2 separate regions of the Homo sapiens genome follow, and region 2 is linked to region 1. The links come from fine-mapping of genetic effects on gene expression. Tissue or cell type: testis. Region 1 holds a variant in brackets; the other region holds the start of a gene. All regions are shown on one strand. Distances are between the middles of the regions.

What was found. PIP is the estimated chance that this variant, and not a neighbour inherited with it, causes the effect.
Region 2: FAM163B starts here. The variant in region 1 is fine-mapped to the expression of FAM163B in testis (GTEx, PIP 0.96).

Annotation. Positions count from the first base shown.
Region 1 is chr9:133,577,528-133,585,625 of GRCh38, forward strand. It overlaps FAM163B (family with sequence similarity 163 member B), which reads right to left. Exons shown (of 3, transcript NM_001080515.3): 2 at 2,604-2,719; 3 at 1-1,902. The coding sequence starts at 2,696. The coding sequence ends at 1,495. It overlaps LOC124902296 (a long non-coding RNA gene), which reads left to right and starts at 1,911. Exons shown (of 2, transcript XR_007061833.1): 1 at 1,911-2,313; 2 at 4,258-4,812. RefSeq lists an enhancer at 83-698. The variant G/A (reference allele first, on the strand shown) is at 4,265.
Region 2 is chr9:133,605,792-133,613,889 of GRCh38, forward strand. It overlaps FAM163B (family with sequence similarity 163 member B), which reads right to left and starts at 3,598. Exons shown (of 3, transcript NM_001080515.3): 1 at 3,286-3,598.

The sequences.
Region 1 (8,098 bases):
GGCAAGAAGTGTCCTGCTCAAGCCACCCCTCCGCTCAGGGAAGGTCACTGCCCGGCCAAGCCTTGTCTTTGAGGGCGGTGCCTTCCCTGGGCAGAGAGGGGCTGCCCCGGCCCTGGGGCTCCATGGCAGGGCACAAAAGGAGAGGCAGAGCCCCAGAGAGGGAAGGGGGCTCCTGGGGCCAGGCTGCTGAGAGGAAATAATTGCCTCTTTCTGGGTGAGGAAGAGCTGCCTTCCTGATGGCTGGTGTCCTGGGATGTGGGGCATTTCTCTGGGGTAGCCATTGACGTCATTTCCTTAGCAGCAGGAGAGCGGGTGAGAATTCCCAGGAGACCTCAGCCTGGGTGGGCGCTTGGTGGAAAGTGGGCTCAGATGAGGTCTTCAGATGGCAGCAGTAGGCTCTGGCTGCTTGGGGTCCACCAGGAGCTGGGCCAGGCCTCCTAGGTCCTGCTGAGAAGCAGGTAGGGGAGGTGACCTGCAACTCTGTCTCCCTTGGGGATCTCAGTTCCTGTTGAGACCCACAGCCTGAAGACCTCTGTCCTCAGGGTCTCTCCTCATCACACAAGATGGGGAGACTGAGGCCCAGGGGTGGGAAGGGCCAGCCAAGTCTCACGGGGAACTCGGGGGTTTTCAACCCCTGGGCCATGGCTCTGCCCCTGACGAGCCCCGGGCTGCCTCCGTTCACTGCCGCTTGCTGGCCCTGTTTCTGGCTGAGCACTGGGTCTATACATTTCCACGTTGCCTCTCCCACGGCAGGGGGACTGCGACATGGCCTCTCCCTCTCCCCGTGCCTCCCTCTGCCACCAAAAAGCTGGTCAGGGCGGAGCATCCCAAGGGCCCTGATGCCCCTGAAAGTCTCCCTTCTAGGGGGCAGCTGGTCCATCTTCAGGGAGCTCAGCACGTGTCTCAGCCTAGGCAGACACTTGGCCCTTGAACCCGGAAGAGTGTGTGTGTGAGAGAGAGGGAGAGACGGGTAGGGGAGAGAGAGGGAAAAATGGAGAGAAAGAGGCTGGAGTTCAAGGTGGAGGAGCAGAATCCTTGGTCTGCAATTGCCAGGGAGGGCCTTGCTGCAGGGCCCTGGGCCTCACTGAGGTCATCCCTTCCTTGAGCAGGTGAGAAGGGTGAGACCCAGGGAGGGGGTGACACATGGAGACCTCCTGGGAAGGCCAGGTTGTTGGGTCTGAGACAGAATCATCAGGAGTAACGGTGGCCTCTGTGCCTGAGAGCCCTGGTGCATGCCCAGCCGGCTGTATGGTCACCTGGTCCTTCTAGCCCCAGGCCCCAGCTGTGCCTCCCCCCAGGACACATTTGTGTTCAATGAGCCTTATCCCTGCCACGAGCCTGGGGGCTCCCCAAGCCTGGGCCTCCCCTGAGGACAGGGATTCCAGGAGGGCTCAGCCAAGCCCCACTTGGGGCCTGGGGCCAGGTGGGTGTGCCAAAGGAATCCCCCCATTGTCTCAGGACCTTCAAGGCCAGGATCCCGGGGGCGGGCCCAGGTCACACGTCGGTGCTGATGCTGCGGCTCCTGGCGAAGGCCTCCCGCATGGCTGAGAGGCGGTTGGGGTTGAGCGCCTGCAGGCCCCCGAAGCCCCCCGGGGGCAGCTCCACGTCCTCCTGGCTCACGCTCTTGTAGAGCACGCGCTCCCCGCCGTTCAGCACGTCCTCTTCCTCCTCCGGCGGCTCCTGCAGGAAGAAGGTGGGGGGCTCGCAGTGGGAGCAGCTGCGGCAGAGGGCGCGGGCCTGCGGGGACTTCTGGCTGAAGGAGGTGGAGGCGGTGGGGTAGAGCGCCGGCCCGTTGGTCAGCACCAGGTTGCGGTTGGAGTGCAGCGGGGGCAGGTGCGAGTGAACGGCGAAGTCTGGTTCCTCCTCGTCCTCCTCCGACTCGTCCTTCTTGCAGCAGTAGTACTGCGGGCAGAGGGACGGTGACCATGCGGCCGCCCGCTCCCACCCCAGAACCGACATGTGGGAAAGGCTACCCCTGACTGGGGAGGGGAGATAGGCACGGTGGGAGTGGGGTGGCCCAAGCCCAGGCCTGACACCTCAGCTGTTTAACCAGTGCTATGGGTCTCACTCAGGCCAGGCGCAGTGCTGAGCACTTCACAACGATCCACTCATCTCTTCCGCCCAGCAACGTGCAGGTGTGACTGTTATCTCCATTTTGCAGGTGGGGAGACTGAGGCGTGGAGGGGTTCGCAGCCCCACATCAGCAGAGCCGGGGGTCACAGGCACTGGCAGCTGTGTTGCCTCGCCCTGCCCCGATGGCTCCCCCTCATCTCTCAGGGAGACATGGAGACTCTGGATGGCCCTGGAGTGCAGGTGGGAAGGATTGCTCACTGTGACACTCCTTTTGGGCAGCTGGTGCCCTTGGCTAAGTCCCTTCCCGTCTCTGAGCCTCTTTATAAGCTCTGGGTGAGGGGAGTCAGGCGCATCTTACTGAGCCCCATGGTAGGGTCCTGCTGCCTTCTGCTGTGTGTCTTCTCTGCCACAGGGCTCTTCCCCACTTCCCGGGCCGTGACCCTTGTGACCTTCAGGCGGGGCTCCCTCCCGAGGTAGGGGCACCCTCTGGGCCTCCCTGCCCTGTCCCCTTCCCCGCCGCCCGGGAATACCTGGAGCCGGCAGTAGCACAGAACAGCGATGATGCAGAGCAAAATCACAGTCGCCAAGATGCCCCCGGTGATGACCACGGTCCCGGCTGTCATCCGCCCCCTTCTCCATCAACAGCCTGCAACACACGCCGCCAGCTTTAGAGCATCACGCTTCCTCACCACAAAAGTCACTCGTGCTATTCTAGAGAACTGAGAAGACAAGCTGAGGGGAAAAAAGCACCCCAGGATGTGCCTGTGAGAGGCAGGGGCTCTGCCGGGGACGGGGTGCAGCAGGAGCCCAGGTCCTGCTCTGCCTCAGCTGGCCTCTGTCCCTGCCCCTCTCCCAGCCTCAGCTTCCACATCCGTAGAAGGTGGATGCTAATAGCACAGGGTTTTGTGACACTTTTACAAGCGTGTCTCTCCATGCTTAGTGTAGCATGCTGTCAATGAATGGCGCCCTTCCAGCCTGGCTCTACAAGCTTGCACGTTTTTAAATTTACCCAAATGCAGTCAGGCCGAACATATGGTTTTGTAACCTGCTTCCCTGCATTTTCATCTCACACAGTCACCATTATTCTGCCATATCCTTAAATTTTCTTCTGCAACATAGTCTCTAACCCGATTCCATTGTTTCATGTAACTGACTCCTTTTCTTTAAAATGCTTAATTGTGGTAAAGCACACATAAAATGTACCATCTTCACCATTTGTACGTGTGCGGCTTAGTAGCATGAATTATATTTCACACTGTTGGGCAACTAATCTCCAGAATTTTTCATCTTGCAAAACTGAAAACCAATTCCTGCCTGACGTTTGGGCTTCTTACATTAAAGAAATATTTTTAGCAATGTTTTAATAAGCGTCTTTGTAGCTAAGTAATGGGAACCACCTGAACCTGCTTCAGTGGCTTTCAGGATACATTCTTAGAAGTGGGATTTCCAGGCCTAGGGACATGCCCTTTGCAAACTCCTTCTTGTGGAAAATGTCCATCAAACACAACGCAGGGAGGCTGGAGTGATGCTGTCAGTGGCTGCTGCATTCAGCTCATCCCTGTCCTGGGCTGTGCTGATAAACCAGCTCTCAAAGCACCCGGCTGGGAGCATTTGCTGATTTTTGTGGTGTAGATTTTCTTACCATGGCCAGTTTCAGTTCAAGCAAGGTTTGACAAGCGGCTTACAAAATTCCTAAATTCTTCACAATCACCTCTCACAGAGCAGTGGGAGCTGGCGCCACTTCCCTTCCTCAATTTCCCAAGCCTCATTTTTATTTTTTTTTCTTGCTGGGGTATGGGGTGGAGGAAGAGATTGGAGTATTTTAAAGGAAATCACAGAGCATATCACTTTACCCATAAATACTCCAGTGCAGCATCTGACGGAGGAGGATTTTAAAAAAATTACCCAGCCTACGTTTAGCTTTCTCCTGTCGTCTCTGAAATGCCTTTTTTACGGTTGGTTAGTTCAAATCAGGATGTACTTGCTTTTGGCTCCTTTTGCTCTAGAACAGCTCAAAACCCATTCACGCCCCGCACCCCCATGTTGTTTATTGGAGAAACTGGGTTGTTTATCTGACAGAATTTTCCAGGCACTGGAGCTGGCCGGGATTCCTCGCATGGCATTGAACATGCTCCTTTATCAGTGTTTCTCCTCTAAACTGGCTTCCTGTTGCATCACTCCCAGGGGCCTG[G/A]TGTCTGCTGTCCCCCTCATCTTGACGTCACAATCAGCTAATGACTGCAGCTGCTCTCGGCCAGTTCTTCCATTGCCAGATTCCGGGGGGTCTCCCAGCCCATTGCTGCAGCATCCTGTGCGTGACCTGGATCTGTTACTTCACTAGGAGTTACAAAGTAGTGACTTTCCAAATGTTATCCTTCTTTCCACGTTTATGAGCTCCAGTTCTTCTTGAAAAAGCTCTAAAGCACATGCCTTTATCATCTGTGTGGTTACCCTAGCATGCGGCCTGCAGAGGGAAGGCTCAGAGGTTCCATTCCTCCCTTTATCAGGGATCAGAATGAGCTGGTGCCCTGAGGTTTGTGGCTGTGTGTGTGCCGAGAGGACGGAGAACAGGCCAGCCCAGATCCACACCTCTCAGTGAACCAAAAGTGACCCTGCCCCCTTTGCAGGCCCCGCGTGCCTACTGGTCCCAGCCTGTTGTCTGCCCCAGCTTGCCTTTCTACGTGGAAACTTGCCCAGTGCAATCTCACTGATTTTTGAAAATATATTTGATGCGTTTCAGTCCACTGCAGTCATGATTCTTTTTGATGTTCAAATGATCCCACTAGGGAGCAAACCGAGGCCTGGAGAGAAATGACCCGCCCAGGCCCCAGCACCAGTAAGATGAGGGATCTGGGTCAGGTCAGGGCTGGATCCGCTGCTACCATCCACCTTGGGGCCCCTGCCACCCTACCCCGACTGCTGAACCCCATGTCTCCTCCACGTGAATGCCTTGAATGCCACAGCTCCTTTGGGGAAGCACACACTGTGCTGATAGCAGGTTTGGGGGTGCTGGCCCAGCCATGGCCCTCTTCTTTGTGCCCTGAGCCAAGAGGCTGGTGGCCACTTCTGAGCCCTCTGCTGCTGTCCTTTCGGCCACAGTTTATTGGGTTTGGGATGGACGTGCACCCCAGGCTGGGCCAGCCGGCCTCTCTCCTGGGAAATGGAATTAAGGCCTGAGACACTGGCCGGTCCCTGCTGGTCGCTTGACCTTGGGTAGAGACATGAGTGCTCAGGCTGTGGCCAGGCTGTAGCCACGGGTGGGGTTTTCAGCCACATGTTGGAGAGTCAGAAGGCGCTGGTCCCCGGAGGGAGCGAGGAAGGCCACAGCTGCCGGAGAGATTGCTGTTGTGGTCCTGACTCAGGTGCCGATCCCTCCCCGACACCTGCAGAGTGACTCCTGCTGTGTGTATGTCACCTACTGTGTGTATGTCACCTGGAGGGCATTTTTGCTATTTGCACCCAGGTAATTATGGCCCCACTTCATCAATGAGGGCACTCACACAGCTTGGGAGGGGTTGAGGGAGGTGGAGGCTCGTGCCCGAGTGTTGTCTGTGGTCATGCAGGGATTAAAATTCAGCACCACCCTCCACTACGGGCCATGGCTGAGGGCCCACTGCTAGGGCTTACTGATAGCAATGGGGGCCACTGCTTTCCCATAGGGAAGCATGGGCCTGGGTGGAGGGGCTCCCACTGCTGTCAGGCTGAGACTGCAGGGAGGATGGAGACTGTAGGTGGCCATGGCTGGGCTGAGGTGCTCCCTCAGGGACAGGTACTGGGGAGCCATACAGGACACCCAGGCTAAACCCCCAAGTGCCAGCCTGGCTTTGCCTCTGGTTAGCTGCAAGAATGGGCCTTCAGTGCCTCCATTCCTCTGCCTCAGTTCCCTCCTCTATAAAATGGGAGAACCCCAGGGGTTCTGTGGGACAGCAGCTGCACCATGCTCAGTGCTGTGCTGATGTTAGGACCGTGTCCCTCCCTGGGTCTGAGTCCTTCATCGGGTCCCTGAGGGAGCTGGCCCCGCTCGCCGCAAAGCTCTCTCTCAGGTCTGAGATGCAGCCGGTCCCTGGCTCCGCCTGGCTGCAGCTCCTCTGGGCCCAGGTCTCCTCCAGCGGAGAGCAGCCTGGCGGCGTGACGGGAAGGGTGCCGGCTCAGGCCAGGTGCCCAGGGCTGTCAGCAGCCACCCTCCAACACCCAGGCTGGTCCAGCTGGAGCCTCTCAGCCTCGCTCTGCAGATACACGCCTGCCGAGGAGCAGCAACGCCCGAGACGGCGCCAGGTCCCAGGGCCAGGCATGGCCGACAGACACACACTCCGCTGGCAGCTCCACCAGCGCCCAGCCTGACATCAGACCACAGTTCACTCCGAGCAGCTCCCAAAAACACGGCCTCCCTGGGCCTCCACCCTCCTGCCTCCCCTCTGCTCTAGCTGTGCCCCACCCTCTGGGATGCCCATCCCCCCCCCGGACCTACCACGCCATCAAAGCCCAGCACGTGCCCTCCTCTCCCAGGAAGCCTTCCTGAACTTTAATACACACCACAGAACTTCAAAACTTCAAACGCCAGAGCTGAGAGGGACCAGGTCCCACCCCTTCATTTAATGGGGGAAGAATATGGACCACCTGCTGCCCTCCCTGAGTGCTTACCTTCAGCCTCCTCCCTGGGGACCCCAGGACTCTACTCAGCTGTGGCCCAGGTGATACGAGTCTGCGGGGCCTCTGTCCTGCTCTACTCTTGCGGGTGACCTTGGGTCAGAGGCCTCTCCCTGGGTTCAGTTTTCTTATCTGTACAATGGGTGTGGCAGGGTTTAGACGCTGATTCCTCCCAACTCTGGGGGACTTGGATTTTTAATTGGTCCTGCCAGGAATCCAGATGATTTAGACACCCAACAAAGTCAGGATTATGAAAATGTAAACAAACATCAAGTGATAAGGCGAAAAAGCCAGATGACACCCTCCAAGGGTAGGCAGAGAACGGGAAGGGCTACAGACACTTTGGCTCCCAAGGATACTTGTGCTCTGAGAAAGCTGAGTGCCTGAGAGAACAGGGGAGGACTTGGCTGCTCAGGGTGGTAACGGATGGGGGAGGAACCGAGGGAAACTTCCTGGAGGAGGAAGCTTCTGAGCCGGGCTGTGAAGGATGGGCTGGGAGAAGAAGGAGAGGGCCTGTTGGTGCTGGGAACAGCACAGGCCAAGCCTCGGAGGCAGAGCCATGCGGGTCAGGCCCAGCAACAGCCTGGCAGAGGCTACTCTGCCGCCTGCTTGTGACTCGAGCCCCACCCCTCTTCCAGCTCCCTGAAGCCTCCGCACTGCCAGCCAAGGCAATTTGGCGAGAATAGCGCTGAATTGTTTATCTGCCCCCTGGGACCATAAATGGTTTTAAAGCTTTATAAATGGCTTTGCTTCCCTGTTCCCACCCCGGGTTTTTACAGGGACAGGTTGTGAGATGGGGCTCCCCTGTGCGTCCCCCACCCCAGTCCACAGAGTCTGTGGCAAGGGGGCCTGGGCGGGCAACAGTCCCCTTCTGAGGGCCCCATCTCGTCTCTGTAGCCGGCAGGGAGAGCCAGCTGCGTTTACAAGCTTCAGTTGTCTCCTGCGGCACCGGCACCGAGGAATGAATGGCGTGGAGCTGGGGGTGGGGCAGGAAACACCTGGCAGCAGAGCCAGACACGGGCCTCCACCTGCCTCCCCCGGGAGCCCCCTCCCCACACCCACCTTTCCCTGGCAGGAGACCCCCTGCTAACCACCATCTGGGCCACACGTCCCGTGCTGAATTTCAGACTCTGCTAGTTTTCTGTCCCTCTTGCCACATCCCCCTCACTTGCCGTAAAGCCCACGGGAACGGACCCCTCCAGAGCTTATTTATTTTGTGCCCCAGCCCCAGCCCCCGCCACTGCCTTGCATGGTACAGGGCCCAGGCGACGCTTAATGAAGGCTTCTGTCTGCCTCGTTCACCTGAGATGCCCAGCGCTCGTGGTAGGAGCCAGGGAGAAGCCAAGGCCTACATCCTCGGCACTGGCCGTGCCCTCTGGCT
Region 2 (8,098 bases), 28 kb after region 1:
GTCTCAGGCCGTCTCCCATCACCCCAACACAAACATCCAGCCCTCAACATGCTTGTCACTTGCCCTCTTCTTACCACCCTGGTCCAGGCCTCCATCATTTCCCTTCCTCCCCAGCTTCCTGCCTGCAGGGCCCCCTCTCCAAGTCATTCCCCATGGTGCAGCCAGAGAGGGTCCCTAAAGGGCAGAGCGAACCATGTCCCTCCGGGCTCCCAGAGCCTGGTTCCTGTGGACTGCGGCGGAAAGCCCAACCACTGAGCAGGGCTTACAAGCCTGGCGGAACCGGACCCCACCTGACTCTCCAGCCTCCTCCTTCACTGATGAGGCCCGAGGGAAGGAGGAGGCACAGTCTCCATTTTCCAGCCCAAGACCTTCAGGCCCAGGGTTCCACAGCCAGAAAGCAGCAAAGCTGGGCTTTCAACTCTACCTCCACCAGCCCACTTCACCCCAGGGGCAACAGGATTCCTTCCCCTCTCCAGCAACCCCCAGCAAGCGGGGATTGGGCCAAGGCCTGCGGGAGGATTCAGCAACGGAGGGAGGGAGCTGGCAAACACTGAGGCCTCGGAACTCATCAAATCCCCTCTGGAGCAGATCCAGAAAGACTGAGACACTGCAAGAAGTACCAGTGCCAAGTGTGGCAGCAGCTGGCAGAGAAGCCCCCCAGCCCCACCCTGGCCTCTGTAGGGTGGTCCCCAGGACCACATGCTCTTGGCATCCAAAAGCCTTTTGGCCAGGCTCACGGTTGCCCCGGTGTCCCATGTGCCAGCAGGGAAGGCAGGAGCACCCTCATTTTTGCAGATGGGGATGCGGAATGATGCACCCGTGGTCTGGCCTGGAAACCACTCTCTCTGCCACACAAATTGCCATTTTACCAACACACAGATCAGGACTTGCTACTCTGAAGAGGGAAGTGGCGGTAGGGCCAGGAGCGGAGTGGAGGACAGAACAAGGGCTCGGCTGCTGCTCTGCCTCCCCTCCTGCCCCGAGAGTTTAGAGTCAGAGGTAATTGACTGAGATGTAATACATCTCTCCCCTCCCGAGTGCTGTAATTATTCCTCGCTGGAGCCCGCTGCCATGAGGCTGCAGAGGCAGGCCCACGTGGCAGGAGCCAGAGGTCTCACTGCAGGAGTGGGTCTCCATGCTGTGAAGCCTCACCCAGAACCAGCACCAGAAAAGTCAGGAATATAGAGCCAGCCCCTAAATATACAAAACGGGGGTGATCATGTGAGTAGGGAGTAGGGTTGGCACGGACTGGGGGCTTGGACTCAGGTCAGTCCGAAGATTTCAAAACTGCTCTGCACTCCCTCAATACCATGGCAAAAAGGGAGGAACTGCACTCCTCCCAGCTTTCCTACTCCATCCGGGGCTTAGATGAACAGAGCTGTAATGGCTCAGAGGGGGGACATGAAATGATCCACCCCACAATTTTGTACATGGGAGACTGAGGTCTAGAGAGGAAAGTGACTTGCCCAAGGTCACCCAAAAAGGTGGACAGAACTCGAGTCCCGACTTCTCCATCTGTGCCCACCTTTCCCCAGGTGCCCTTGCTCATGTTTGCTGATGGTACTGGCATGACAGACGTGTGTTGGGGACTCCAGCCTCAAGGGTAGGAGGAGCTCTGTGGGGCTCCTTGCCCTACCTGCTGGAGAGGCGAGGGTGGAGAAGCTGCAACACCTCTGTGTGCCAGGATTCTGAGTGGTGTCAGCACGTCCTGAGAGTCCAGCAATGCACCCTGGAGCTCCCACTCCCTCCCCATGCAAGTGGGGCACTGAGGCTGGGAGAGCCTGTGCATCCTTCCCAGACCCCCAGATCCTTCGGGAGCCATTTCCAAGCTTTCCGGCTGAGTCTAGACAAGCCGGCCCCATTGGAAACTCAGCTGATAGGGAAACCAAAACCCAGCTGGATCCAGGATACAAAGACTGCCCTGTGGGTCTTTTCATAGCATCGTGCAGATGCTCAACAAACTGCCAGCAAGTGCAAGACCGAATGAACAAAACCCCACATTTCCTGGGCCCCCGAGCCTTAGGGTGAGATTTTTTCACAAGCTGCCAGCACCTAAGCTGTTTAGGAAGCTTGCAGTCAGTGCACCAAGAGTTAAAACCAGCCCTTGCCCAGCCCAGGAAGTGCTGGTTCTCACCTGCTCAGGTGGGTAGAGCCCTGGTCACCTCCACTTCACTCTCAATTCTATAAGAGGGAGAAGGTGGGAAGATGGGCAAAGGTGCTTTCCCAGCAACCCTGAACTTTTTGGGGGTTGGTAATTACTGCTCTCCCCAGAAGCCCTGAAGAGCGTGAGTTGGCAGGGGCTGAGGGAAATGCAAGGGAGAAGGCTGGCAGGGTGGCCCGCTGGCTCTCCTGAGCTCCTGCTTACTGGGGAAGGTGCTAGGACGAATGCTGGGGCTCAGGCCTCAAGGATACTCCCCTTACCCTGCAGAAGGTTCCATGAACTTGACCCTTGAGTTTCTTGTCTCAGAGCCATCGGGGTTGCTACGGGACACACACTGGCAGGACCACTTGTGCCCAGGCAGTCCGTGGCTGCGGGAGGACAGGACACGAGTGGGGTGAGACAGTGGAGCCCTGAGGACCCATGTTGAATATCTCTTGGGTTTTTGGTGTGTAGAGTCTTTTCTTTTCTGGCTGAGGAAACCTAGTGTCAGTTAGGCAACCCCCCACCTGTCAATGAAGCAGAGATTCCTAACAGACAAAGGTGTGAGGTGGTGGTGACAGAGGCCGGCGTGTTTGAGGCCATCTCCACCACTTCCCCACTCTGTGATCGTGGGCAAGAGACCAAACCTCTCGGAGACTCAGTTTCTGCATCTGTGAAATGGGGCCAATGCCCCTTTCTCGTGGGTGTTGGGTGAATGGGATGGGATGAAAATGCAGCACCGACTCTGGAAGAAGGCAAAGCTCAGCAAATGAAAAAGTCTTAGCTCCTGGCAGGGAGAGAAGGCGGCCAGGTTTCCAGAGGGCTCTTCTGGGAAACTTTCCCTCCCCACTGCCCCCTGCCCCCAGGCCACTGTTCCGAGGGAAATGAAGCCCCCCTTCCTAAAGTGGGTCCCCCACCTCTCCCTTAGGCCCTCGTGCCCACCTGGGTCTCAGTCTCCTCCTCGGGGATGCGCTTTGAGGGTGGAAGCCAGGGGATGGGTGACGCCAGCTGGGTCAGGGGACCTGGTGCGAGGCAGCCGGGGCAGGCTGCAGTGGGCACTCTGGACGAGTGGGCACCTAGCTGGAGCTTTCCAGCCTGCGTCTTCTGCCCCACACCCCGTGACCCGCGGCCCGCTCGGCCCTTACCTTGAAGCATGGGAACCGCGCTGCCCCGGCCGCGAGGACTTGGGCGCACGTGACGGGGCGGGCGGGCGTCCGACCCGGGCAGGGCGCAGCTAGCGGCGGCCGCTCATGCCCAGGCCACGGCGGTGGCGCCTGGTGTGGCTGGGCGGGCGAGGCGGGCGCTGAGAAGCCCGGGAGGCCCCCGGGGAGGCGACTGCGTGCCCAGGCGGGCACCCCTGCCAGCTCCGCGCTGCGGCCGCGACTCCGGACGCCCCGGCTGGCTCCCTGCGAGCTGCACGCGCGGCTCCAGCCTGGTCCCGAGCGCAGGGCGCGCGCTGGCGGGGAGGGCGCGCGCCCGAGCCTGGCGGGGAGCGCGCGTCACCGGCCCGCGCGCGCAGTCGTCGGGGGATGCCGGGAGCGGCCTGGGGAGCTGTCCCTGGTGCTGACGGCTCGTCCGCTCTCGCCCGGGACGCGCGACCTCCTGGAGGCCTGGGGGTGCCCCCACCCTGGCCGGCGCCCTGCGGTGCTCCCTCCGCTCTCCGCCTGTTCTCGGGGCGTTCCGGCTTCCACAACGTTGGGATCTGGAGTCAGGCCGAAGCTGCTGCTTATCCGCAGTAGGGCAAGTCCCTTATCCTGGTTGAGCGGCTGGTTCTTATCTTTAAAATGGGGAGTTAACACCAGCACCTTTAGGGTTGGTCTGAGAATGAAATCCGATGATGTTTCGAGGCCCGGCACACCATAAGTACTTAATAAATGCTCGCCTTTGTTACTATTTATTTCCCTTCTCTGAGTTAGCAACCCCGGAGCAACTGAGAGGAGGAGCAAGGCTTACGCTGCTCCTGGTGAGTGGCTGTTTGGGGCATGGCGGCTGCCTTTGGATCTCTCCCACATCCACGGGGAAGGGGAGCAGATCCCTTCTCCCTGACCCCAAAGCACAGAGCTAAGACCAATGGCTAGACGTTAAAGCAAGGCAGATTTGGGCTGGATACGAGGGAGACCTTTCTGACCCAAGGCTCCTACTCCTGAGAGGAGTGCCCCAGGAGGCATTTCCCTGTTTCTGCAGGTCCTCGAGCTGAGCCTGCGGTCGCAGGGACCCTGAACGGAGAGAAATCTGGTGTTAAGAATGTTAGGAAGGCTTTTGTGTTAGAACATGTACAGCACTCAGAGCTGTGCCTGGTGGGAAAGCACCATATAAATGTGTGCTTTTTTTTTTTTTTTTTTTTTTTTTTTGAGCCATATCACTCTGTCACCCGGGCTGGAGTGCAGTGGCGTGATCTCAGCTCACTGCAACCTCCACTTCCTGGGTTCAAGTGATTCTCCTGCCTCAGCCTCCCGAGTAGCTGGGACTACAGGCATGCGTCACGACACCCAGGTTGTTCTTTTTGTATTTTTAGTAGAGACGGAGTTTTGTCATGTTGGCCAGGCTGGTCTCGAACTCCTGACCTCAAGTGATCTGCCCGCCTCGGCCTCCCAAAGTGTTGGGATTACAGGTGTGAGCTGCCACGCCTGGCCTTAAATGTGTGCTTTCATTATGATCAACCTTTAAGTTCTCTATAAAAAAACTCCATCCTGGTAGTAACCATAACCTTGCTTCATTCTAGACATGAGAATACTGAGGACAAACAGAAGAGTAAAGTGCTTGGAGTCCATTTCCCTTTTACAGATGGGCTGAGCACAGATGGGTGAGCAACTTGCCCATGGACAAGAGAGTGAGTGTTCACACCATACAGACATGCTCCAAATGTCCAGCCTGCTGCCTCCCCTGCTGGGGCCCCTGGCAAGGGCCCCTGCTGAGTTTCTCCAGGCTGATCAGGTCACTTTGACCATAGAGAGTTTTCTTATAGCAAACCAGGCTAGTCCTCCTTCCTCTTAACTAATGGGAAAAGCTGGTCCCTGCCCCCTGTGAGTATCTTGTTCTCTTCCAAGCAGGATAATTAAACATCACCTGCTTCATTTCCCAAGGGACCAGGGGCTGTGTTTGATTCATTAATTAACTGCGAGTAGTACCTGCTCCCACCAGGCACTTGTCTCATGATAAACATCACTCATTATGTGCTTAATGCGTGCTAGACACAAGGCTAAACACAGTGCGAGCATTGCCTCATTTAGTCTTCTCAGCGATCCGATGAGATATGGATACTGTCATTACCCTGACTTTGCAGGTGAAAACTTTAGGCTCAACAGCAGCAGACCTGAGGCGGATCGGCCTGATTCCCAAGCCATTGCTCCTAATCCCCTTCTTCTAGAACTTCTACATCCTTCCCAACCAGCCCCACCTAGAAAGAAGGATGGTAAACACGGATAGAAATTCCTTATAAGGAGAGAGAGAGAAAGGCAGAAAGAGAGAGAGCCAGGAGGAAGAGACAAACCAGCCAGCCAATCGATGTCCTAGGAGTTGACACAGGAATCCTTTAAATCATCACTTTTAGTCAAAAACTCCATTATGACAACTGAGCAACTTGTTTTTTATTTGAGAGTTGCAAGTGTGTGCCAAGAATTTTAAAAGCAACATCACTGCCAAGCCCTGTCTTTACCAACCAGCTCAATGCCCTTCCACTTCTCCCCATGCTGACTTTTTACTCAAACTCTGCAGAATCCTGCAGCTATAGATCTGAGCAGCTGGAAACCTCTGTGGAACCAGCTCAGACTCTGTAGCTCTTGGCCTCTTGACATGCTGGTTTCTTTCCCATGCTGTGGAGAGAGATGTGTTCCTGATGCCCGTGATGACGAAACCTTATTTAAAATGGAGCCCATTTTATTTGAAAGAGGTCTGAATATTACCCACAATATGTACAGTAGATGCCTGCATTGCCCTCGCTTTACAGATGGTAACAAAGGGGTGAAGTGACTTGGCCAAGGTCACACAGCCAGCAAAGAGGTGACTACACTGAATAGATTTCATTTGGATCGCAATGCCAGATGGTCACCACCAAACTCATTATTTATGTGCAAAAGCATGCCCTGATTTTAAGCAAAAACCAATTTCAGAAAATAAAAATGGGTGAGGGGAGAGAAAGACAAGGAAGAGTCTCTGGTCTGACTTTATAAAAACAATTCATCATCAGGATTCCCTAAATAGCAAGTTCTCCTGGTGCGTGCAAAAAAAAGGATCCTAGTTACACGCAGTTCTTTTAGGTTGGCCAAAAACAGGCCCGGGGGTGGGAGGAGTGACATTCTGCCGCCGGACTGGTTCTCCATCCACTACAATAAGCTGTTTAGTCGCGTGGCAACCTCAGCCAACGGCAGCTACTCTGTCCCCACCACCAGCATCATTCCACAACAGAGCTTCGTGGATATAACTCAAATTCAACAGATGGCCAAGTTGGTTGAACACCTCCCAACACATTGGTTCATGGGTGGCAGTTTACAAAGGTTCATTTTCCACTTAGGGCAAATGGGGCTTGCGTAAGATCAGCCTGACACTATACAAGCAGGACCTCTGTGCGCATCCGTTTCTTGGAGTCGAGTTGGATAGCCTCATTGCTCAAAGACTTACAGCCTCATGAAGAAGAGGCATCAGGCTTTCTTTCTCTCTGAGGATCTATATGTGCACAAGAGGTGCTCATTGGCTGGATATAGAGGAAAAAACAAAACCAGCGGTGGCGGGGAAACCCTGACATTCCAATCACACCTGCACCCCCATGCACAGTCCCCTGCACACTCGAATGGAGGGAACGACGTTCTTGGGAACAAAGGATGTGAGCAGCTGCTGTTGATGGCTGAGTCTCATTCTACAGAGGCAGAAAGAACAAAGTGCTCGAGGAATAAAGTTTCTGCCAGGATGTGGAGAGTAATGAGAATGATGGCCAAGAGCTTCTCCTATTCCCTTTCTGGGAACCCTCTGGAAGGGAGGAGCTCGCCATCTCCAGACATGTCTGAGCAGAGGCTGGCTGTCCACTTGCAGCACAGCTGGCACCCGGGGACCCCTCGGTGTTAGAAGTCTGTGAGATTCCAGAAGGGGCAGCTGCTCACTGGTCTGTGTGGGTGCCCCCTGGCCCCCAGCACCGACCTCCATTCAGCTGCTCGATGGATCTCAGGGCACTGAAAGGGGGTCCACGTCCGGTTTTCCAAGCTCCTCCTCATATTGGTGCCAGGCCAAACTATTGAAGTGGTTGCTGTTTCCACATATTTATGGAAATTACCTGGGCCTTGCCGCAGTTACTAGATTAACCTTTGTTTGGTCGTTGAATTGTTTCCTCTTCTTAGCCTGCAGCCATAAGACGTTCTGCAGTTGATTGACTGAGCCCAGCAACAGCCCCTTTGATCCGTTTTCACTGAACCTGTGTCCACTCAACTCCAGATGATCTGTGCAGGTCAAGATCAAGCCCATTTAGAGAAGAGATGAACTTTTTAAAAAGAAACTATTGAGAGATGGGTAACTGCAAGTCACTGTGATTACTCTGTGATGCCGAATAGGCAGAGTGTGCCTCGCATCCTGGGTCTGTTAGATTGGACGTCTTTTAGATGGGACCAGGAGAATGACGAGGTACCAAAGTGTGCAAGAGAAGGTGAGAGGGTCGGGCAGCAGAGTGTGCCAGCGGACAGAGTGGGAGGCGTGCGCGGGCTCAGGTGTGCAGCGTGTGGGGTGTTTCCATTGCCCTGGTTTGAAAAGACAGCCTCATCTGTGTGAAAAGAAATTACCGGTGGTTTTTAATTACTGCAACATTTTAAAACATTGTGACAGCAAGCTTGATGTGTTCGTTCTTTAAGAATCATCGCAGATGATGGATGAGGAGGAGATGGGGCTGAGAGGCGCTCGGGGACCCGTCAAGGGGTCTCTCCCGGCTCCCTCTGTGAATCACGGATCATCTTGACAAATCCTGCTGCAGAGTGAGAA